Linked DNA regions of Homo sapiens: regions 2 and 3 are each linked to region 1. Evidence: fine-mapped expression QTL. A gene starts in region 1. Each other region holds a variant in brackets. All regions are shown on one strand. Distances are between the middles of the regions. Region 1 holds the start of STK32C (serine/threonine kinase 32C). Region 2 overlaps LOC124902526 (a long non-coding RNA gene). Region 3 overlaps STK32C (serine/threonine kinase 32C).

What was found. PIP is the estimated chance that this variant, and not a neighbour inherited with it, causes the effect.
Region 2: its variant is fine-mapped to the expression of STK32C in fibroblasts (GENCORD, PIP 0.92).
Region 3: its variant is fine-mapped to the expression of STK32C in whole blood (TOPMed, PIP above 0.99).

The regions. Positions count from the first base shown.
Region 1 is chr10:132,303,805-132,311,134 of GRCh38, reverse strand. It overlaps STK32C (serine/threonine kinase 32C), which reads left to right and starts at 3,185. Exons shown (of 12, transcript NM_173575.4): 1 at 3,185-3,563. The coding sequence starts at 3,302. RefSeq lists enhancers at 1,372-1,914, 1,915-2,459 and a silencer at 2,712-3,361.
Region 2 is chr10:132,388,937-132,396,266 of GRCh38, reverse strand. It overlaps LOC124902526 (a long non-coding RNA gene), which reads left to right. Exons shown (of 2, transcript XR_007062342.1): 1 at 1-1,606; 2 at 1,937-3,452. Among named protein-coding and RNA genes, the nearest start is that of PWWP2B, 4.6 kb to the left of the region's middle. RefSeq lists a silencer at 1-294 and enhancers at 103-625, 626-1,149, 6,060-6,739. The variant A/G (reference allele first, on the strand shown) is at 4,417.
Region 3 is chr10:132,251,410-132,258,739 of GRCh38, reverse strand. The region is part of intron 1 of STK32C (serine/threonine kinase 32C); the gene reads left to right. Among named protein-coding and RNA genes, the nearest start is that of STK32C, 53 kb to the left of the region's middle. RefSeq lists enhancers at 3,486-3,985, 3,986-4,487. The variant C/T (reference allele first, on the strand shown) is at 3,745.

The DNA of each region.
Region 1 (7,330 bases):
AACGGAGGACCCATGTCCAAGGCATGTCCCTCAGGAGGCGTGGCTTTATGGACGAATTATGAACAAATGCACATGAAGCCTGGTGTCAGGGACTGCACCTTGTCCCCCAAACCACCCCCAGCCCTTCAGCACATGCCACGGCCACTCACTTGCTGTCCTGCAGCATGGACCCTCCTGTCCTCCCGCACAAGCCGGTTTCTACCTTAGGGCCAGCTCCTGCTGTTGGAACCCGGACACCTGGCCTCCCTTGGGCTACTCGTTCATGCTCCGGCCTCAGCATCAAGGTCACCTGCTCAGAGACTCATGCTGGACTACCCAAGCTAAAGTGGTCCCACGATCATGCACGTGCTGCCCAGCCATGTGCCTTCCTGTGTGCTCCTGCGTGCTAGACGTCAGTGCACTGAATGCATTTATCTGTCACATTGTCACTTGGTCTCCTGTCATTGGAAGGGGCAGACACCATCGCTGCCCTAATGAAGTTGACGTTCCCGGGCAGCATGGGCACACAGGGGAACTCAGGAATTCTCTACTGGCCTCACTGCCCCTTCCCATCCACAGCTGACTCTGTCCCAGCCTCAGTCCCTCCCAGCATCCCCCTAGAACTTCAGAGCTACCTCCCATGAGGCACCAGGGGTTGGCATCCTCTTGGGGACAGCAGTTCCTGACCCCTCCTGTCTCATGCCTACACTGTGCACCTCTTAACGCTCAGTCTTGTGTTTGCCTGGACCCTGAGCCGTGGCTGGACAGTACAAGAGTTGCACCTGGACAGTACAAGAGTTGTGCCCTGAGCCCACAGGCCCCTCCAGGGCTGATCTGCACTGGCCAAATCTTAGGACCCGGCATTCTTTTGGGAGCTGCTGTTTCCCTACAGATCCTTCCTGTTTCCTGACTGAGAGGCAGGTGCCTGGCTTGGTGTTTGAGGCTCACAGCAAGGGTGAGGTTGGAGGGTCTCCTAGTTAAGTGTGCAGATGTCCCCATGAACCCCTCTGCCCCCCTGCACTCTTGTCTTCTGCAGGACTTGGTATCCCTAGGTCAAGAGCCCCTTTGGACCCTCAGACCAGAGGACTGTCCATCCCCAACTGCCCGGGCCGGGGAGGCGTCCTGGGCTCTGGCTGTATTCACATTCTCCCGCCTTTTGGGGTCCTGGTTACCTGCAGGTCCTCAGCCTCTCCAATCTTCAGAGTCAGCTTTCTACCTGCTGTCTGAAGTCTATTAACATGTCTTCCCTTCTCCTGTTCCCTCTTAGGTGGTGGTGGGGACGTTATATCTTTTATTCCTTTTCTGCCACTTTTAGGGGTCAGAGGGAGAGGAGGAGAGGCGATGATGTAAGTTCAGAGGCTGCGTGTTTTGGGAGGAGCCCTGGGGAGTCTGATGTGTGCACCGGGTACGCAGGGTTCCAGGCACTGCCCTGCCTTGGTACCTCCCCTTCCAAACGCTCCTTCACCACTCCTGCTGGGATGGGCACCGAGGGCTTCCTCTGAGGCAGGTGCTGAACCCACTGCCTTCTGCGTGCCTGCTGGAGAATGGCAACTTTGAGGGAGAGCAGGGAACAGAGCTTCGCAGCTGCAAGGGCTGAAAACTCGGCTCTGTGCACTGGAAGTTAGAGACCGATGCGTTTGTGCTAGCCAGGCAGGGAGAGCTGCGGTGGCTGGTTGGTCAGGTAACCTAGGTTATGCTGCCATAAAAATACCCTCTAAATCTCAGTAGTGAAATGCATGCCATGTGTCCTAAGCGGGTGCATGTCCAGGTGGGTGCATGTCCTAGGCGGGTGCATGTCCAGGCGGGTGCATGTCCAGGCGGGTGCATGTCCTAGGTAGATGGGCATGGTTCCATTCCTTATAGTCCCCAAGGGATGGGGGCTCCTGTTGGCCCAGAAGCCACACAGACTTCCCGTGCTCACATTTCATGCATCAGGCGGTTAGGGCGGGCGGCCACACTGAATGTCAAAGGCCGTGGGGAGGCAGGGCTCACAGTGGCTGAATGACAGGGTAGACAGTTGTGTGCGGTGGGAGGGACGGGAGCGGGAGACACTGGCCTTGGAGCCATGTTGGGGATCCGCTCATCGTCCGGGCGGGCAGCAGGAAATCCCATCTAGGATTTCACCGAGGAGGAAGAGACCCCGTCTTTGTGTCCTGGTTACAGGGCAGAACTTAAGGAGGTAAAGGCTTCCTAAAGTCAAACAGCCCGGTAGCAAAAACTGATTCTTCAGTGACAAGCGCCAGGGGCAGGCGGCGAGGCTCCATGCAGAGCCGCGCCTTCTCCAGGGCACTCCAAGGCGCCCAGCACTTTCCGCGCAAGGTCGCGCCTGGCCCTGCGCAGGGGCAGAGGTGCCCGGAGGTCAAGCCGCGCCCCAGGCCTCCGAAATACGCCGAGTGCCGAGGCCCCTGTCGCATCTGGACAAGGGGACCCTGGGCGACTCGGGCACGCGGTCTCAGGCCGGACGGGGGTCGCGAGGATGGCACGGGGGTGCCCGAGAGCGCGGGCGCACGTGCTCAGGGCTTAGCGCCCACCCCAGGCGCCCGCGTGTGCGCGCGCGCAGCCAGGCCCGCCCTGCCCCACCCCACCCTCTGGCGCAGCGCTTGGACTCAGCCTGCCGCCTCCTGACCGTGAGCCGGGCTCTGCCCGGCAGATTCCCGCCGCCCGCATCCCGGGCCTGCAGCCCGGCCTCACCCTGCGCAAAGCAGAAGGCTGGAGTTTAGGGCTCCCCGCACTGGGCGGCGGAAGCCCGCGCGCCGGCTGTTTTCACGAAGAAGGCAGGGGAGGGAGGCCCCCGGAGACCGCGAGAAGGTCCCGCCGCCGTGCCGGGCACAGCAGTCCCCGTGCCAGGGACGCCGACCTCCGGGGCCCCAGGATACCCGTGGGGACGCTCCCTGCCTCCCTCGCTCTCGTACCCGCCGTCTAGTCTGAGCCGTGGTCCCCGTGTCCCGGCGAACCACAGCCCCCATCCCTAGACTGGTGGCGGCCACCCACTCCCTAGCGACACTCCAGGCACTAGCCCCGCCCCTGCCCCGCCCCCGGCTCGGCCCCGCCCCTACCCTTCCCGAAGCTCCGCACCTGCCACGCCCCGGCGCTCAGCTCCGCCTCGACCCCTTCCAGGAGCTCCGCCCCGCCCCCGCCCCTTCCAGAAGCCCCGCCCCTGCCCCGCCCCCAGCGCTCGCAATCTACGGGGCGGGTTCCACCGCCCAGAAGAGCGCACGGCGGGCGCTGCCGGCCCCGAGCGCTCCCGCTACCACTGCCGCTCCCGGCCCTGCCGGCCGGCCATGCCCCGAGTTCCGGCTGCCGCGCGCACCCAGACCCGGCGATGAGGAGTGGCGCCGAGCGCAGGGGCAGCAGCGCCGCGGCGTCCCCGGGCTCGCCGCCCCCCGGCCGCGCGCGCCCCGCCGGCTCCGACGCGCCCTCGGCCCTGCCGCCGCCCGCTGCTGGCCAGCCCCGGGCCCGGGACTCGGGCGATGTCCGCTCGCAGCCGCGCCCCCTGTTTCAGTGGAGCAAGTGGAAGAAGAGGATGGGCTCGTCCATGTCGGCGGCCACCGCGCGGAGGCCGGTGTTTGACGACAAGGAGGACGGTGAGTGCGGGCACGGGGACGACGTGGGGGCCGCGCGCTATTGCAGGGGCGGGCGCGGCTGGGCGGCTTTTTCCCGCAGGGGTTCCCCCGGTGTCCGGGACGGCTTCCCGGGGCGCCCCGGCTTCCGGAGAAGCTCGCGCCGGGTGGCTGCGGCCCCACGCGAGTTCTGGGCGCCCGCCCGCGTCCTCCGTTTCTAGTGGCGGCGCCGCAGGAGGAGCAGGCTGGGCCCGGGCCCTCGGGGCGAGGGTCCCCCGCGGCTGTGGCGTCTCCGGGCTTGCGCGCGCCTCCGCCCACCGCCCGTGGCAGCCCTGCTTTCCGCTTTCCGTGATCCGCTCGGGCCCACGTGCGGGCTCGTTTGTACTTTGCAGTTAGAGAGGCGCTCACCTGTGCCGCCCGAGTGCGAGTGAGGCTCCTGCCCCACAGGTGGCGGGGCCCGGCCGCTCAGAGGCTCAGTCTCCTTGGTGACCGCGCGGTGTCCATCCTCTGCTCACCCATGTGCGCTGGAGGCAGGGCCAGGCCGTTGTGCAAAGACCTGCCCTGCCAGGAACGAGTGCGCTGCTGAGTCCTGTAGATAAAGCCGCCAACCCCGGGGACTGGTGTCTCCTGAGTGACCGTGCAGCCGTGGGCGCCATAGAAAGCAGAGAAGGCAGGTGAGGTGACATGGGACAGGCCTGCAGGGACACCTCCCGGGGTGCCAGGGGGCCCCGGGGACCCCCGAATTATCACCTGCAGGGAGATGTGGTGCCGCGTCTGCCTGTGGGCACTGTAATACAGTCACATGCAGACATACAGCTCTTTTCTACAGGTAACATGCAAATCATTTAAAATCGTACATTGATGACACATTTCATGTTTTTTGACATTTTCTTAAAATACTTGAAATGTGCATTTTTCATTTATAGATAGCGTGCAGAGGTATGATGGATCCTTCAAAATTTTAGAGCCCAGCGCTCAGGAGCCAGGCTATTTACTTGCGATAAATAATTTAAGCATTATGGGAAATTACAGTAATACGACCTCAGGCCGGCGTTGGTGAGTGTGGGGCCGTGCACCGCCGTTCCTCCGGGAGACGGCACCGGGGATTCATGGTGTGCTGCCTAGAAGGAGGGCTGAAGGCCCAGCCACACCAGGCCCCACACGCTCCAGGGTGGCCCGTCACTGTGTCCTGAACTTCGGGACAGCAGAACTCACGATGGTGAATGTTTGAGAAATGTTTTTGTTTTTAACATAAATATTCAAAGTAAAGAAAGCCCAGAGTGAACTAGGAGCTGATCAGGAGGCAGATTTGCCTCTCGTTTCTGGCTGCGGGTTGAGAGAACGTCTGAGAAACGCATCTGGTTTAGCACTTGCTGGTGTCAGCCAAGAGCTGGCTGCTCTTCTGGGTCTCGGCACCGTGCTCTCCGGGGGTGGGAGTGGAGACAGTGGTGTGGCACTGGGCTGCCTTCAGCTTTGTAGGGTAGACTTCCCTGTGTGTTCACAGTGTGTTATGTCACAGAATTCAAGGATCACTAGAAAGGCAAAAAGAGCAAGCACAGAGTCTGTCTGTGGGGCTCACGGTCTGACTTGGGAATTCTTTCACATCCCCAGCATCACCGTATTTGCCTGTAGTAGGACGGCAGAGATTCGGCTGACGGTGTCCCACGGATGCTGCTGGCTCCGTATGGCTTGGTATGCAGCCACATCCCCAAACTGAGCACCCGCCGGGACTCAGCTGGGCTTTGTGTGGTGAAATCAGGAGGGCAAGACTAGGCCCTGGCCCGAATAGCAGAGGACATCTCTGGGCGGTGACCGCTTCCCTCCGCTTCTTCCTGTCACTGGCAGGGCACAGACAACTTGGGAGTCATAGCACAGGGTTTGCAGAAGAATGTTCTGCACCTCTGAGTGTGGATGCCGGGGACTCGTGTTGGTGGAAGGGATTCAGTTTGGAAGGAGAAAGGAGAGTCTTTTAGGAAGGGACTGTTGCCCCTGAGTCCCACCCCTTTCAGGTTGGTGCAGTCATTTGCCTGGTACTTTCGTGGCCCCGTGGCAGCACTGGCTTAAGGAGGCCCTGGTGCTGTGTTGGTGTCTCGAGTTTACTGAATCTGCACGGTTGCTATGGCAATGCTAGACCTTCCGATGAATTTTTTAGATTAAAACACCTAATTAATATATCAAATTTAGTATGCAGAGAAAAGGAAAAAAGAAATTAAGAGTGCTGTTTAACAAAGTGCCAGGTAAATTTCAACTGATAGGCATAGTTGCGACATATAAGACTAAATGTCCTCTGTTCCTTTTAATCCTTGTGGACTCCAGAACCATTTTCCTAATTTGGCAGATATTTGGTGCATGTACAGAATTCTCTGCACGTCTTTGTCATGCCAGAACTGAGGGTCTCCAGTTTTCCTTCCCCTCAGCCCCTCACATGCTCCCATTCTATCCCTTCTCTGACTTCGGTGAAAAATTCATTTTTGGGGTTGAACTTGGTTAGGGGGTCTTTCTGCTGCTGCTCTGCACCAGAGCTGCATGGCGTTGGGCGAGCCCCTTCATTCCTCTCTGTCTTGGTGTCCTGGTGATACCAAGTGAACCTGAGAGGAGGCTCCGGTACCTTCCCGCTAAGCAGCTCTGCAACCTGGGGGGCGCTCGCCCGTCTCGGGGTCACAGCATTGAGTCTCCAGCCTGACGTGGCATTAGCCCGCCAGCAGGAAGTAGCTCCTCCCTGAGGGGCTTTGCCTTCATCTGGGGAAGGCTGGAGTGGACAGGCCCTTGCAGGCTGTGGACGGCCCGCCCTGGGCGCCGGGCCGGGCAGGCAGTGAGGCAGGACCAGGGGCCACCAGACTCCTCAAGTCATCTCTTAAAATTAGAAACACCTTTGTTTTTTCCTAATTATGAAAGCATTAAAATGTATGCATTTAAAAACATTCTATACTTTATGCCACGGTATCTGTAACTTCAGCATTGGGATCACGGTGTCACCTCCCAGCCTTTTTCTGGAAATACAGTCCCAGGTACAGCCGTGGAGAAACACTCTCTCTTTGTTAGCAGAAGTGGGATCCTGCTCTGCATGCCAATTTGCCGTAAGGTGCTTGTTGATTCAGCGATATGTTGCCAGCCTCTTCCAGACCTGAGGCATCATTTGTTGGCTGAATTTACAACAGTTCTCAGCCCCAGGCTGTGGACCCGAGTCATTCACTGGGCACTCTTAAAAAATGCAGATGCTCAAGCCCCACACCCGTGAACTGTGGGTGAACTGGGGGGGTTTGGTGGGTTGGGGGTGGGGCTCAGGGGCTCAGGCTTTTTTTTTAAGCCCCTCTTGAGTTTTACCAGCAGTCGAGGCTGAGATTCCCGACTCTGCAGTGCTCCCCTGAGCAGCTGTGACTTTCTCTGCTTACTTAGTTTCCTGTCACAGGACTGTGAGGTGTTTCTGTTTTATAAATATCATAAACGACGTATTGATGAACATCGTTGCAGATCTTTGTGCACTTGGCATTGTTTCCCTAGGATACATTTTTAGGAACGACATTGCTCAGGCAAAGGGGTCCGTGTGAAATACCTTAACACGTGTGGCCGCTCAATTGGTCCCTCTCTGAGCATTGTTTATGGGCCATGCTGTCGTGGGGTAACCGGGCAGAGGGGAAGCAGAGAGACTGACAAGACAGGGAGGCAGGAGCGAGTGCAGTGGGTGGCGGGAGGCACCTGCAGGGGAGAGAACCAGACCACCTGCTGCCAGCGGAGCTGGCGGGAAGGGAAAACCCATTTTCACTTGCTCCAGGAGCGGGAGGGTTTGATCG
Region 2 (7,330 bases), 85 kb before region 1:
CTCCCGCGCCTTCAGGCGTCAAAGCCCCCGACTTCCCCGAGCACCAGCACGTCCGCACCCGGCTCAGAACGCAGGGGCCCGGCCTGCTGCGGTGACCTTGGCCCCGGGCCGGGCTTCTGAGCCGGACTTGCAGCGCCTGACGAGGCCTGGAGGCGGGGCGGGGGACCGCGTAGTTGTCCTGGCGACCCAGCGCCGCCGGGCAGGGCTCCTCCCAGCCTGGGAATTGAGGACCACCGCCCCTGGTGCCACTGGGGACCGTCGGGTCGCTGGCGCCTGTCGACCTCGCCCTCCGGCGGCCGCGCGGCAGTGGGAGCCTCAGAGAGGAGCCAGGGCGGAGTGAGGGAGCCCGCGGGGCCTGGGACACCTGACCGTCCGGCTAGAACAGGGGTAGGGACCGAGGCCGAATGAGCCAGAGTTCTGGCCGGGGACAGTCCCAGAGGAGGCCTGGAAGCCCAGTGAGTGTCTGTCCTCCTCTGTGTGGCCTGGGGCTCCCGCCAACACTAAGCCCTTCCTGGGGCCTCAGGCACCTCAAGGCGCCCCGTTCTCCAGGGTCAGCCAGCCCCTGCCCACTGGTTGCCAGGCTTGCAGTGGAGCCTGCCTGCTGTCCTGCCCACAGGCCTCTGCAGCTGCCCCCTCCAGGGGTGGGGCTGACTTTGGAGGAAAAATGCCAGGCAGCAGGGACCCCCTCGCCACCCTGCTCCAGGTTGGGCTGAGCGGCCATCCTGAGGCTGCCCACTTGCTTGGCTCTTCTTCCTGCCTGCTGGAGAGGCCTGCTGGGCACTGCCCTTTCTGAGCATTGGGGACTGCCAGGGTGAATCAGCATTCAGGCTGGTGGGGCCAGCATGGGGTGGGGCTAATGCACAGGGGGCTGTATGTGGGTGGAGGGATCCAGAAAGAGTGTCCAGGGGAGCACCAGCATTCACCAGGGCCCCACCAGGTGGGCAAAAGCAAGGGCTTCCGAGGTGGGGGTGGGGGTGGGCAGGATCCTCTGCAAGGTGTCTGCGTGCGCCTGGGGCTCCTGGTGACTTCCCACGCCAGCAGGAGGAACAGTTTGGGGTGTGCTGAGGGACCCACCTGTGGACTTGCTGGGCTTTGAGAGGAACCAAGGCTGGGTGGCGGCGGGCAGGACAGGGGAAGAGGGTTCCGGGGCACAGAGGGCCAGACAGATGCACCCAGCAGCTGGCAGCTCTGGCTGGAGAGGGGAAGAGGGCAGTGAGAAGCACGGCTGGCCCATGGTACCTCCTGCCCCTCTGCCCTGCCCGCCTTCCCTCTGCCCTGCCCACCTTCCCTCTGCCCTGCCCGCCTTCCCTCTGCCTCTTCCCCTCTGGCCCGTGCTATTTACTGTGTATTGTTAAGTGAACTTGGAAGCCGTTTTTAAAACCTGCTCTCCACTAGGTAAGGTATAAAAAAGACCATCTGCAGACAGGGAGACCATTTTTGCAACTTAAACGGTGGCTGTTCAGGGCCTCCCCCAGCAGCCCTGCCCCCGCACCTGCTCCCACTTGCTTCCCGCCCCGCTCCAACCTGCTTGTTGAAGAAGAGGCCATGGGAGTTTCCAGAGTCCCCGATTAAAGTGCAGGTGTCCTTGGGGACCTCATCAGCCCAGGTATCCCCTCCTGTCTGACCCTGTATTCGGGGGTTGGGAGGCTGTCCTAGGCTTGCTGCTCTGAGCATCTCCCCAGAGGCCACCCTGCTCATGCCAGTCAGTGAGGTCTGCCCAGTTCTGGGAAGCACCCTGGGTACTGGGGCTGGTGCTGCCCACAGTGAGAGGACCCTGAGCTGCCTGGCTGGGCTGGAGAGGAGCCTCGGGAGTACGCCCCTGGCTGGGGTGAAAAGGCCAAGAGTGGGAAGAGACACCTCCGAGGTCTTTAGACTTTGTCTTCAAGAGACTTGATCCAAACAAAAGGTCCTAAAGCCTTTGGTCCTCTGGCTGTAGGCACAGCCGCAGCAAGGCCTAGGACATGCCCAGCTCGGGACGGCCCAGCCAGTCAGATGGGGTAAGCCAAGGGGACAGGAGAGTGTCCGGAACTTCCACCGGGGCTGGGGGTGGGTGACCAGCAGTTGGCAGGATGGGTGGCCTGAAGGGGTACAGTTGAGGGAGGGACAGGTGGCTGGAGGAGGAAGCAGGGGCTGGCCTCTATGTCCCCTGAGACAGCAGGGGAGGAAGGCAGGAACCCCGCAGGCCACCTCCCCTCAGGGTCTGCCTCCCCTGCGGTCCTTGGAGGAACTCCAGGATTTGTCCTCCCTGGCAGCCTGGCTCACTTGCATCACCAGCTCCATGCCCGCCCCTCGTCTTTCAGGGTCGCTCCCCCAGGTCCGAGCTTAGAGGGCCCTCCTGACTGCTGGACCTGGACCTGCCCAGCACTGTCCTACCGCACTACATCATCACTGAGACTTGGGAAGGGCAGTGGTGAGCAGGTTCTCAGCCTTTGTTGGTCTCTTCCACGAGATGAGGCTTACAGCGGCCTCCCCATGACTGAGGTGCAGCCACAGCCTGGCCTGTGTCCAGCCTGCTCCAGAATCACCTGGTATCCCCCCAACCCCCAACACACCTGGGCTTGCTTGATCTTACTGGAGCTCACCAGGGCCTGGCTGTGTGCAAGTCTCATGCAGCATAGTGAGGTGCTCCTGAGATGCATCGAAGGTGTCTGGTCAAGATGGAGGCCTCGCAGGACACAGCCATGAGTCAGAGACCACAGATTTCTCCAGAGCTGGTGCCCAGAGGCCAAAGGCAGGGATGGGCCTTGAGGCTGGGACCCAGGTCGCCTCATGGCAAGCCTTTTGCCCACAGCAGCTGTGGAAGGCAGGAGACAGGATAAAGCCTTTAATACAGAGGGCCTGCTCTGATTTCAGTAAGCAACCATTCATCACTCAAGAAGCCTGGACAGACTAGGGAGCAGGAGCACGCCAGGCCTCCTCCAAGGTGTCTGGCAGGGAGGCCGGCCTGGGGAACACACTCCTTGTCCCTTGTCGTGTCGTCTGAGGCAGGGGCTCAAGGCAATCTTTGCAGATGCTGAGCCAGGAACCCTCGACCTTCTAGCAGGCCACAGATCCTTTGGGCAGTGTTTGTTTTGTTCTGCTCCAGTCTGGAAGCCCTTGGAGGGCAGTGTGGGTCTACAAGGCCAACTTTGTCTTGTCTGTTCTGGAGCTGTCTCCCTGCCCCTTGGGTTATCAGGATGATATAGGGTCACATCCCCTGAGGCAGTATCTCAAAGGACCGGCTGGGAACAGAACCTGCCAAGACTCCACTCGAGGTGGTGCAGAGAGCTGGGCAGGCACATAAACTCTGAGGCCAAACTGCTAGAGTCCTGCCATGTGACCTTGGGGAGACTGCCACCTCCCTTGTGCCTCAGTGTCCTCATCTGTAAAGTGGGAAATATGATGGTACCTACCGTGTAGCCTCGTACTGAATATTAAATGAGTTAATATTAAATGAGATACTTAGTACAGCACAAGCCCCAGTAAAGCTTCCATGAGTTAGCTGCCATCACCATCATCAACACTTTTGTCATTATCAGCATCACCATCACCACCACAGTCTCCACCATCACCGCTACAGCCATCATCACCATGAGCATTACCATCCCACCTCCCCCATCACTACCACCACCATCACCATCACCATTGTCACCACCGTCACCATCATCACCATCACCATCACCATCATCACCACCATCACCATCATCACCATCACCATCATCACCATTACCACCACCCCCATCACCACTACCATCACCATCACCATTATCACATCACCATCATCACCATCACCATTATCACCACCACCACCTCCACCATCACCATCACCACTACTGCCATCATCATCATGATCACCATCCCACCTCCCCCATCACTACTACCACCATCACCATCACCATCATGACCACCATGACTATCATCAGTATCACCCCACCACCATCACTATCACCATCACCATTGCAACCACCATCACACCACCATCACCATTATCACTGTCACTGCCACCACCATCTCCACTATCATCACCATCACACCACCACCACCATCCCCACCATTGTCACCATCACCACCATGACTATCACCACCACCATCACCACCATCACACCTACCATCACCACTACTATCAGCATCATCACCACCACCGCCATCACCATATCACCATCACCATTATCACCAGCAAAATGATCACCACCACCACCACTCTCATGATACTTGTATAGCTGGGCCCTCAGTGGGATCCTCGGGTACACCTGAGGCCTTGTGCTATGCTCAGGGCCAGGTAGGAGATGCAAACCCTGTGCCCACATGCTCTGTGTGCAATCTGCCCCTGCTGGTATCTGGCTGAGGCCCGTGATGCGGAAGAAGCCAGGCAGGTGAGTGGCTCCCAGGTAGCTGCTCTTGAAGCCTCCTCTGACCCCATAACCTGTGCTCTCCCAC[A/G]TCCTTGGCAGGGGAGCCGAGGCAGCCCCCAGGGCCAGGCTGGCTCTCAGCAGTGGCTGTGAATCCCTTCCAGACTCAGGTTCGAGAGGCCCTGTGGCTGCAGCATCTGGGCAAAGATATTTCTAGGGTGGGGCATCCCATCCCCAGACAACTGCTTTGGTTTCCAAACAGTGGATGTGTGACCCTTCTGTTTCTGAAGGAGCTGGCTGTTTCTCAGCAAGACCCGTGCTGTTCTCCATGACCAGAGAACCAATCCACAACACCCGAACCCAGCCCAGGGCCCCTGGGATCACAGGCAACATAGCAGCCTCGCTTAGCAGGTTGTAAGCTCTCTCCTCCGAAGGCCATTCCCAGGATCTAAAGTCCTCATTTCCTGGCTTGAAGTTAACCCTTGAGGTCCTAATGTTGGAGAGAGGAAAAGCCTCCCCCATGTTGATCCAAACGGCTTGGCCAGACATGGATCTCTCTCAGAAGAACCCACGACCAAGGACGCTGGCACGTTCCTGGTGAGGTTCTCCACGAAGAGGTGCAGTGTGAAGTGGCCTGTCACAGAATAAGAGTCCTAAAGCTTACGTTCCCATAAAAGCCCCTGGCCTGGGAAGCAAACACAGACCGGGAGGCCCCTGCCTGGCCTGGGCAGCTCACACAGACTGGGAAGCACTTAAAAGCTGGAGGCCCCTGGAGCTGCTGGTCCACAGGGAGGTGAAGCTGCACTCCTGCCCTAGGGTCTTCCAGGGTGCCTGCTGTGGAGGTTGCTGGAGACGAGCCCACCACTCTAGGGTCCGGGCACCTGGAACACAGCAGGCACTCGGGCGCTTCCAGTCCAGGAGAGGCACCTCCCAGACGGCAGTCTTCTCTGATTGCTTTCTGGAGTTTGAGTGCGGAGGAGGACGAGGTGAGGGAGGCAGCCGAGCTGTGTCCTGATGCATCTTCCAGAGGCACTCTGGGTGGACGCTGGGCCCCTTGGCCTTGCCAGGCTGGGGTCTCCCTTCACAGAGCCCATGCTTGTGGGCCCCACAGCCAGACTAGCACCTTTCTGTCAACACAGCCATGGACACCATGAGAAACTCCCACAGTTAAACACTGCCCAGAGCCCCAGGCCACCTCCTGGGGTGTCATTTTGTAAGGTACCTCACCAACCTCATGAGAAGTCTTTGCTGTAGGGACTTATTTATTTTAAATGAATCAGGGTCTTGCTCTGTCGTGCAGGCTGGAGTGCAGTGGCACAATCATGGCTCACTGCAGCCTCAAAAACTCCTGGGATTAAGCAATCCTCCCACCTCAGCCTCCTGAGTATCTGGTGGTGTTAGCCACCACATCTGGCAGATTTTTTACTTTTAGTAGAGACGGAATCTCGCCATGTTGCCTAGGCTGGTGTAGAACTCCTGGACTCGAGTGATCCTCCCACTTCAGCCTTCCAAAGTGCTAGGATTATAGGCTTGAGCCACCATGCCCTGCTTGTGGGTTTATTTTTTAATCTGACAGTTTTGCCAAACCTCATACTAGAAGGCGGGGCTTCTGTTTGCTAAAAACACCATGATATTTCATCATTAAACCAGTTGTTATCCACATCTGGGATACTTGGAGAAAACCCTCTCAGGGTATATTCACATTTCACGCCCAGCTTGCAAAGGCACCTTCATGCCTTCTGCTCCCCGACCCTGACCTCCCACTCACCTAACGAGCAGGAGCTAGCCTGTGTCCAGAGCGGGGCGGGCGGTGGGGAGGGGGTAGGTAGGAAAGGTCCTGTGCTGCTCCCTCCAGGCAGAGACTCCTAGGGGAGACAGTGTGGTGGCCTGGGGCCCAGGGGCCTCCCTGCAAACTCTTTCCCCTCAAACCCTCCTCCTGGTGGGTGTGGCTATGCATTTGTCCCGACCCCTCCACATGCAGAACCTGGCATGAGCCCTGGGGCGTGGGGACAGACACGGAGTCCAGGTGACCTCAGGGTTGTCCTGAGCTGAGGTGTAGACCCCAGGCAGACCCACAGACAGAGTGGGGCTCTCCGAGGTGTGGTTGGAGGGCCGAGAGCAGAGCCCTGTGCTGGATCTAGGGAGGCACTGGTGTGTCAGCAGGTGCAGCAGCGTGCAGCTGGGCTGGGCTGCGGGGCTCCTGTCCTTGCCCTCCTCCAGTGGCCAGGAGAGGCCAGGTGTTCGTGCTGTCCCCCACAGGATGCCTGAGGGAGGAGGTGCAGGAAGGAGCAGGATCCCCTGGGCTAGGGCTGGAGGGCGCTGGAGGCTGTCGCCTGCGTTCTCCCAGGTGCACAGAAATGAACACCTTCTGGCTGAGAAAGGCTGACTGGGGGGCCTCTGGGCAGCCTGGGGCCTGAGGGGAGCAGAGCTTGCTGGGAGGGCCTCATTCCTTCCCGGGTGGAGGGAGCAGCCAGGCAGCACCCTGACAGCTCCAGCCCTGGATGGAGAGCAGCCCCCACACTGGGCTCCAGCCCTGAGGGGTCTCCCCAGCCTCCTGACCCCACGGAGGAACTGGTGAGTGTAGTGGGTGCAGGGCCAGCTTCCAACAGTGACAAGGGGGACCTGAGCCCAGCTGCCCCCAAGGCCTGGCCAGCACTTGGGGAAGTCCGGCAGGGTGTCCTTGAGGTCACGTGAACTCCGCTTCTGGCCTCACGCCCCAAGGCCCACGCCGGGTTCTGCGCTGTGTGTCCTGAGACCCGGACCGAGCGCATGGGGCCTGAACGGCACCTTCCCTGGCCGGCTGCCCACGGACGTTTGTGGGCTTGGCCCTCCTGTTTTGGGCTCACTTGGGGTGCAGGACTCAGGGATCCACACAGGAGATGAGCCAGGCTTCCTTGAGGGAGCCAGGAGGGCCGGAGTTTTGGCCGATTGCTTTCTCAGCCTGAGACGTTGCCCTGTAATGCTAACCCTGTTGCCATGGCCTGGCGTGGGACCTCCAGGGCCGG
Region 3 (7,330 bases), 52 kb after region 1:
ACGTGTGAGTCCAGAAGCAGCTCCTTTCCAGGGCCTGCTGGCCCTCACAGCGTCAGCGTGGACAGCAGTCGGTACCCAGGGCGTTAGGTGCCCAGAGGACCGGCTGTGAGCCCGCCGCCCTGTTCCTGTTCGGTGGGCTGGGAGGAATTCCAGAGGAAGGCCTGCGCGCTGGCCCAGCCACCCGGGAGAGCGCATTGGACCTGTCCTTCCAGGAGAACGCGCTGGCCTAGGCACCCAGGAGAGCGCACTGGACCCGTCCTGAGGATGACACGGGCTCCACCTGTCCTTTGCAAAGAGCCCTGGAAGGGCCCCGTGGGGGGTGATGGGGGGCGGCCAGGGCCACGCTTTCCATTTTAGGAAAAGGAGGCTGTGAGGAACTCTTCGAGTGCTGTTGATGGTTTGGGGAAAGGTGCTTTCCACTCTACCAAGTGCTAATGTGTGTGAAAATCAGACTGGAGCTCATGCCACCTTGGAGCAAAGCTCCCGCTGTGCCCGGCAGACACCTGCCCAGCCTTGGCAGCTGGGCCCTCTTGCCTGTCCACTGCAGATCCAGGAGAGGCAGCTGCCCCCCTCTCTAGGTCAGGTCAGGGCCGATGTCCTGGGGCTGGGACACTTGCTGTTGCTCCCGGGGAGGTCCTGGGGGGCCACTCAGCCGGCATTCATCAGCACATGTGTGTGATGGGGTGACAAGGACAGGGACAGTGAGGGCACTTGGGACATGGAGCCCTTCGTCCTGACCGATTTCCCGGGGCAGGTGGAGTCCGTGCACTGAGGAGAGCCTTGCTGGTCTTTGCAGCCCATGTCAGGGCCTGTGGCTTTCAGGGGCCTGCTGGGCCGCGGCCTCCTTTGGGCCTCAGGCAGGCTGCACAGTGGAGGCTCGAGAGCCCTGAGTCCCACCTGCAGGTGTAGAGGAGCCCCCAGCCCAGGGCAGCTGATGGGTCCCCTGGGGGTGTTTGGTTCTGGGGCCCCCTCCTAGTGTCTGCAGAGGGGCCTGGTGGAGGGTGGGGGTTGGGGGGAGGATTGTGGGGGTGTCAGGCCTGGGATTGCCATCATTGGCTCACAGTGGGCGCCCCTGGGGACAGAGGCAGAGAGAGGGCAGGGCAGGGGGCCGGCAGCAGGGGGTGGGCACCAGATGGGGTGGACAGGGGTGATGTGGCTTTCTGTGCCAGAACAGGCAGCATCCTGCCACCCACTCCTTCGCAGCTCCGCCCCGCCCATCTCTTTGGCTGGGGGGTGTGATGCTCCCTCCCTGCTCTGAGTCACTCCTCCTCCAGCTCTGCCCCTCTCCCTGGGAGCTCTCAGGCACCCTGAATGACCACAGCCCGCTGGCCTAGGGGCCTGTGGCTGCCAGGAGCCACCTCTTCCTAGGAGCCCCTCCGTCTCCCTCTGTGGGAGACAGTGGCACGGGTGTGGGAGGGCTGTGCAGGACCCCAGGGGCTGCAGGTGGGAGGATGGAAGGACAGACACGTGGACAGGGCTTTTTCCAGCCTTGACCCACCCACACACCTACCCATCTCGTGCTGGCCTCTGAACACACTGACCTCTGGGGTCTTTCAGGGCATGTCCTGTATCCACAGGCCTCACCCCCCTGAGGACCCAGCCTCATGGGCAGCCCCCAGCTGGTCCCACAGCGAGCCCTGAGTGTGGCCCTTGGTGCAGCCACACCCCAGGACACAGGGCCCTGCCCATCCATCTGCTCCTGGCCAGGGCTCCTTCCTGGGCTGTTCTGCTTTGATCCCCAGCCCTGGGATCCCACTGGGCTCGCTCCCCCTCATCCAGTGCTGCTGCTGCTGTGGCCAGCGTCCCCCCCACTGGCTAGGCACACCTGCCTCAGGGTTCAGGACTCAGGAGGAACCCCAAGCCCCACCCCGAGTCAGGGCTGTCTCCATTGCAGCTCCGGGGTCCCCAAGCATCTGTGCCTCTGGGCGGGCAGCCCCAGGAGCAGGCTTCTCAGCTGCTGCAGGGCCAGGCGGCCTTGGAGTCCTCCAGGTCTGCCCCTGTGGGTGGTCCTGGGGTGCTGGGCCCTGCGCAGTGAGAGGCAGGGGTGGGTGGGGCCGGGCCTTGGACAGTAGGACCCCTCTAGGCAGCCTGGGGGGAGGTGCTGCTGCCCACCTCTCCAGCGGTTTGGGGAGCTGGAGGAGCCCAGGTCCCTGCTGCCGTGGGCGACTCCTGCGGTCTCAGGCACTGCGGTCTCAGGCCTGAGCCTCTGCCACCCGGAGATACTGTATTGATCAGGCGGTTGCCCTAATCACTCATTTATGGCAGATCCCCGTGTTGTCTGAGGATGTCGATATTAAACACCGGAACATGATTCCAGACAATTTCAGACCAGACAGGACCAGGATCCACAGTGCTGGCCTGGGAAGCTGCCACTGAGCCTGTTTTATGGGTGGAAGCTTTCACTGCAATTAAGGTGGGGGAGGGAGATGGCAAGAATGCTGCCGCCAACAGGGTCCTGCTGGAGGTGTAGGCACCAGGACCCCGGGCTCTGGGTGTGTACCTGGGCAGGAGAAGCCACAATTGTTTCGGAGCCCAGGGGCCCCACAGGACTCAGCTGTGGGCTGCTGCCACATCCTGGCTGTGTCTGTTTCACAGAAAAGACAGGGTGAGGGCATCGCTGCCAAGATGGAGCCTGGGGCACAGGGTATGTTCCCAGAGTAAGACCCCAGTTGGCTCCCCGAGGCTGGAAGGGTGGTGGTGCCAGCTGAGGACAGAGCCCTGTCCCGGAGCTGCCCAGGGATGCCGGGAAGCCGCCAAGCCACCCGGGCGAGTCCAAGCTGGACACCAGGGCTCCAGGGTGTGCAGAGGCTGCAGGCTGCTGGTCATGGGGGTCTGCCCCTGGGTGAGGGGACGGTGGAGAAGGAGAAGGTGGCCAGCTGGGCCCTCGGAGATGCGTGGGCAGCGCACGTAATGCTGGGCCATGGTGCTGGCACCCAGGCATGACCTCGAGGCTCCAGGCCCCCTCTGGACTGAGGAGTCCAGGGTCAGAGGCCGGCACCCACACCCTCATCCCCTCTCCTGATCTCTGACCTTCCTGCCCTGGGGTTTCAACACATCCTCAGTGGTGCAGGAAACCGCGTGGGGCTCAGCAAGGGTTGAGGGACCTGCTTCCTGCAGGGCCCCCTGCTCCTCTCCTGGGTGCTGCTGTGGCTGGACGCTTCTGCTCTATGTTCTCCGCTGTAACTCGGGAGCCTCCTCACCCCTGCCCAGCGGCTCTCATGCCTGTCTCTAGCCCCCACCTGTCTTGTCCCCATCTGCGTCAACCCTGCCCGTCAGCGTGGTGGGTCTTTGTTCCCGCAGGCCATGGCAAGAGGGTGAGGGGTCTGTGAGGTGATGTCTGGTGACTCCTGTGGTTCCTGTTGACCTAGCGGGCCAGGGCACCTGAGGAGTGGGAGTGGGGGGCACCCATTGCCAGGAGGAGCTATCGGGCCGGTTCCAACTCTTCCACCTGGCCCGGTATTTCCTAAGTCAGGAGCCCCGTGTGGGCCAGACATCCCCAGAGGCTGCACAAGCTCTGCGGGGCCTGCGTCTCGGAGTCCTGGGGGATGATTTTCCTCATCATAAGCACTTCCCAGGTCATAGGAGACGAGACGGCATTTAATCAACTTCTGCGTGTGTTTCAACCACGTGTGACATTTGATCTTTGTGACAGCTCTCACAGTAGTGCCCACTTCTGCTGTGCAATCCTCCCATTGGTGAACGGGCTGGTTCTGCCTGAGGACACTTGGACGTGGGGGCCTCTTC[C/T]GGATGAGTGGGTGGGGTGGGCTGTGAAGGGAAGCGTCCCAGGCCTGGGACACGCCTGCAGCTGTGGGCAGCTCATCCACCACGTGGCAGCTCTGAAACTGTCCAGCACCCACTTCCCGGGCCTCCAAAGACATCAAGAGGGGACCTGGGGTGTCAGGAGCAGAGCTGATTCTCCAGCTCTTGAGACAGCCTTCGCGTGGGGTGCACGCATTGTGCCGGGGTGACATAGTGCTGATTCCCGGCGCCCTGCGGCAGGCTTATTTTACTCTCCTGGGCTCCCAGGTCTGGGGGCAGCCTTCGTGGAGGGTGCACGCATTGTGCCGGGGTGACATAGTGCTGATTCCCGGCGCCCTGCGGCAGGCTTATTTTACTCTCCTGGGCTCCCAGGTCTGGGGGCAGCCTTCGTGGAGGGTGCACGCATTGTGCCGGGGTGACATAGTGCTGACTCCCGGCACCCTGCGGCAGGCTTATTTTACTCTCCTGGGCTCCCAGGTCTGGGGGCAGCCTTCGTGGAGGGTGCACGCATTGTGCCGGGGTGACATAGTGCTGATTCCCGGCGCCCTGCGGCAGGCTTATTTTACTCTCCTCTCTTCTTTTGCTGTCCTCATTGGGAGTATTTTCTTACCAGTTTTGATACAAGCCCTGGCTTATGAAAAGGCTATTTTTTTTTGTTGTTTTTTTCTCCCCTGATGGAGTTTCGCCCTTTTTGCCCAGGCTGGAGTGCAGAGGCGCGATCTTGGCTCACTGCAACCTCTGCCTCCCGGGTTCATGCCGTTCTCCTGCCTCAGCCTCCTGAGTAGCTGGGATTACAGGCGCCCGCCACTATGCCTGGCTAATTTTTTGTATTTTTAGTAGAGACGGGGTTTCACCATGTTGGCAAGGATGGTCTCGATCTCCTGACCTCGTGATCCACCTGCCTCGGCCTCCCTAAGTGCTGGGATTACAGGCATGAGCCACCGCGCCCTGCCTGAAAAGACTAGGTTTTAACCTGAAACTCCACTGAGGCTTTGGGCTTTCCTAACATGGTTTGTTATTGGAAGTGCTCTTTCTATGCCCATGTGGGCCAGCCACTCAGCCGAGTGCTAGACGCAGAGGCGGGTCCCTGCAGGGCGGGAGGAAGGTTCTAGCCAGGCACACGGGAGGGCAGATCATTTTTTATTCTTGGGGAAAAGTGTTGAAATGTTACCTAACGCTTTTGCCTTGGACTTGGTGGTAGCCATGCCAGAGGTGACGTCTTGGCCATCTCTCGCCTCGAGCCGGTGTTTGGCCTTAGATGTGCTGTGGAGGGGCGGCTCCCTCAGCTCCCTCAGCTCCGCAGGCTCCCTGGACTCCCTCTAGCTCTCTCGACTCCCTCCAGCTCCCTCAGCTCCCTCCAGCTCCCTCGGCTCCCTCCAGCTCCCTCGGCTCCCTCCAGCTCCCTCCAGCTCCCTCGACTCCCTCCAGCTCCCTCGACTCCCTCCAGCTCCCTCCGGCTCCCTCAGCTCCCTCAGCTCCCTCGACTCCCTCCAGCTCCCTCGACTCCCTCCAGCTCCCTCCAGTTCCCTCGACTCCCTCCAGCTCCCTCGACTCCCTCCAGCTCCCTCCAGCTCCCTCGACTCCCTCCAGCTACCTCGGCTCCCCAGGCTCCCTTGACTCTCTCCAGCTCCCTCGGCTCCCTCCAGCTCCCTCTGCTCCCTCCAGCTTCCTTTTGCCCGGTTCCAGTTCCCAGGCCCGGCAGGACCTTCCAGGCAGACATGTGGTTGGGCCACCTGTGCTGGCAACCCAGAAACCAGAAACAATTGCGTTGGAGTGCTGCTTTCCGGAAAAGCTCCTTGCCTTTTCTTTGGTTATTTTGTTGCTCCTGGTAAGCCTGGAGATGGTGGCAAAACTCTCTGAGAACAGGGAAATGCTGCGTTAGGGAGGACGAACGTCCCTGCTGTCTGGGTGCTGGGCTTAGCGCTGACAAGTCTCAAGAGAACCTATCTCTGATTGTGGGGCCTGGTTCAGGGACTGAGACCCCAGCTAGCAGCCCTTGGGGAGGACCTGGAGAGGCTGCCGGACACCGTGGGAGGTGTGGGGGCTGGTGTTGGTTTCTCAACCCACCTGTGTGGATGCAGAATCCAGAGTGACCTGGGAGGAGGCGGCCCCACGCTCGGGTCACTTAGCGGGATTCAGATGGCGACTCTCATAGGACCTGCTCTCAGTTGCCAACACCAAAAAAATAAAAGCCTTCCTTGAAGAATAAATATTTTAAAGACCCTGGATTCGAATGCATTTGCTGTACTGGGAAGACTGTGTCTGTGGCCCTTTGGCCAAGCTGCACAATGAGGGCAGGTGCTGGTGGGCCCGGAGCTCCGAGCCGCTCCGTCCATCCCACGCCCGCCGTTGGGTGCACACAAGTACAGAGGTGCTTCCTTCAGGCAGATGTGTCCTGGTTCCTGGGAAGGAGCCCCCTAGCTGTGAGATGGGATTGTGGGGAGCTGCGTCTGCTTCTCCTTTTACCTGCGTCTTAATTTGAGAGGTGGACAGCACGGGTGAAGGATGCGCTGACAGCATCACTGCACGGCGTAAATCACGCCGAGGAGCGTGACAGACCAGTCTTGGTCCCCGTAATCACGACCCATGCCCACACTTCTTTGCCAAATGTCCCCTTCAGAAATGTCTCCCGACGGCCTTGTAGGATGGCAGCCCCCTCCCCCTTTCCTGCTTTAGCCCCCTCCCTGGCACCTGGTGCCACACTGTGGGCTTGTTGAGTGTTTCCCCCACACTGAAGAGTTCACTCCAGGAGGTTGTCTCCCTCCTTCCTGGGTCTGGAATGGGCCTGGCCAGCGGTTCATGTGGTGACCTCTGACCTTGGCTGGTTAGCAGGCCGCCATGTCCCTAGCGGGTTCTTGGCCAGAGACTTCTGATCAGACAGTGCCAAAGTCCAGCCCTGAGGGGCCCAGCAGGATGAGATGGGGATGTGAGGGGGAGGCGTGGGTCGGAGGCCCCAGGAGGCATAGGGCATTGACCTGCCTGTGGTGAGTAGTGGAGGGTCTGAGGCCCCAGGAGGCGTAGGGCATTGACCTGCCTGTGGTGGGTAGTGGAGGGTCTGAGGCCCCAGGAGGCGTAGGGCATCGACCTGCCTGTGGTGAGTAGTGGAGGGTCTGAGGCCCCAGGAGGCGTAGGGCATTGACCTGCCTGTGGTGGGTAGTGGAGGGTCTGAGGCCCCAGGAGGCGTAGGGCATTGACCTGCCTGTGGTGGGTAGTGGAGGGTCGGAGGCCCCAGGAGGTGTAGGGTGTTGACCTGCCTGTGGTGGGTAGTGGAGGGTCGGAGGCCCCAGGAGGCATAGGGTGTTGACCTGCCTGTGGTGGGTAGTGGAGGGTTTGCATTCAGGGCTCAACCCCCAGAAGCCAGAGTCGATCTGAGGTGGGCACCCACCACCCTCTTGGGGTGCTCACCCAAGTCCTGAGGGGCTGAGTGTGGGGCGAGGTGGGGTAAAGAGATGGTGTGGGGGCTCCTATGCCCCCCCTTCCCAGGGCCACAGGGCTCCTCGGCCGTTCACAGTAGGCTCTGTGTATAAGGAAGGGACCATGCCCACTCCCCTCTGAGGCCCAGATCAAGTGA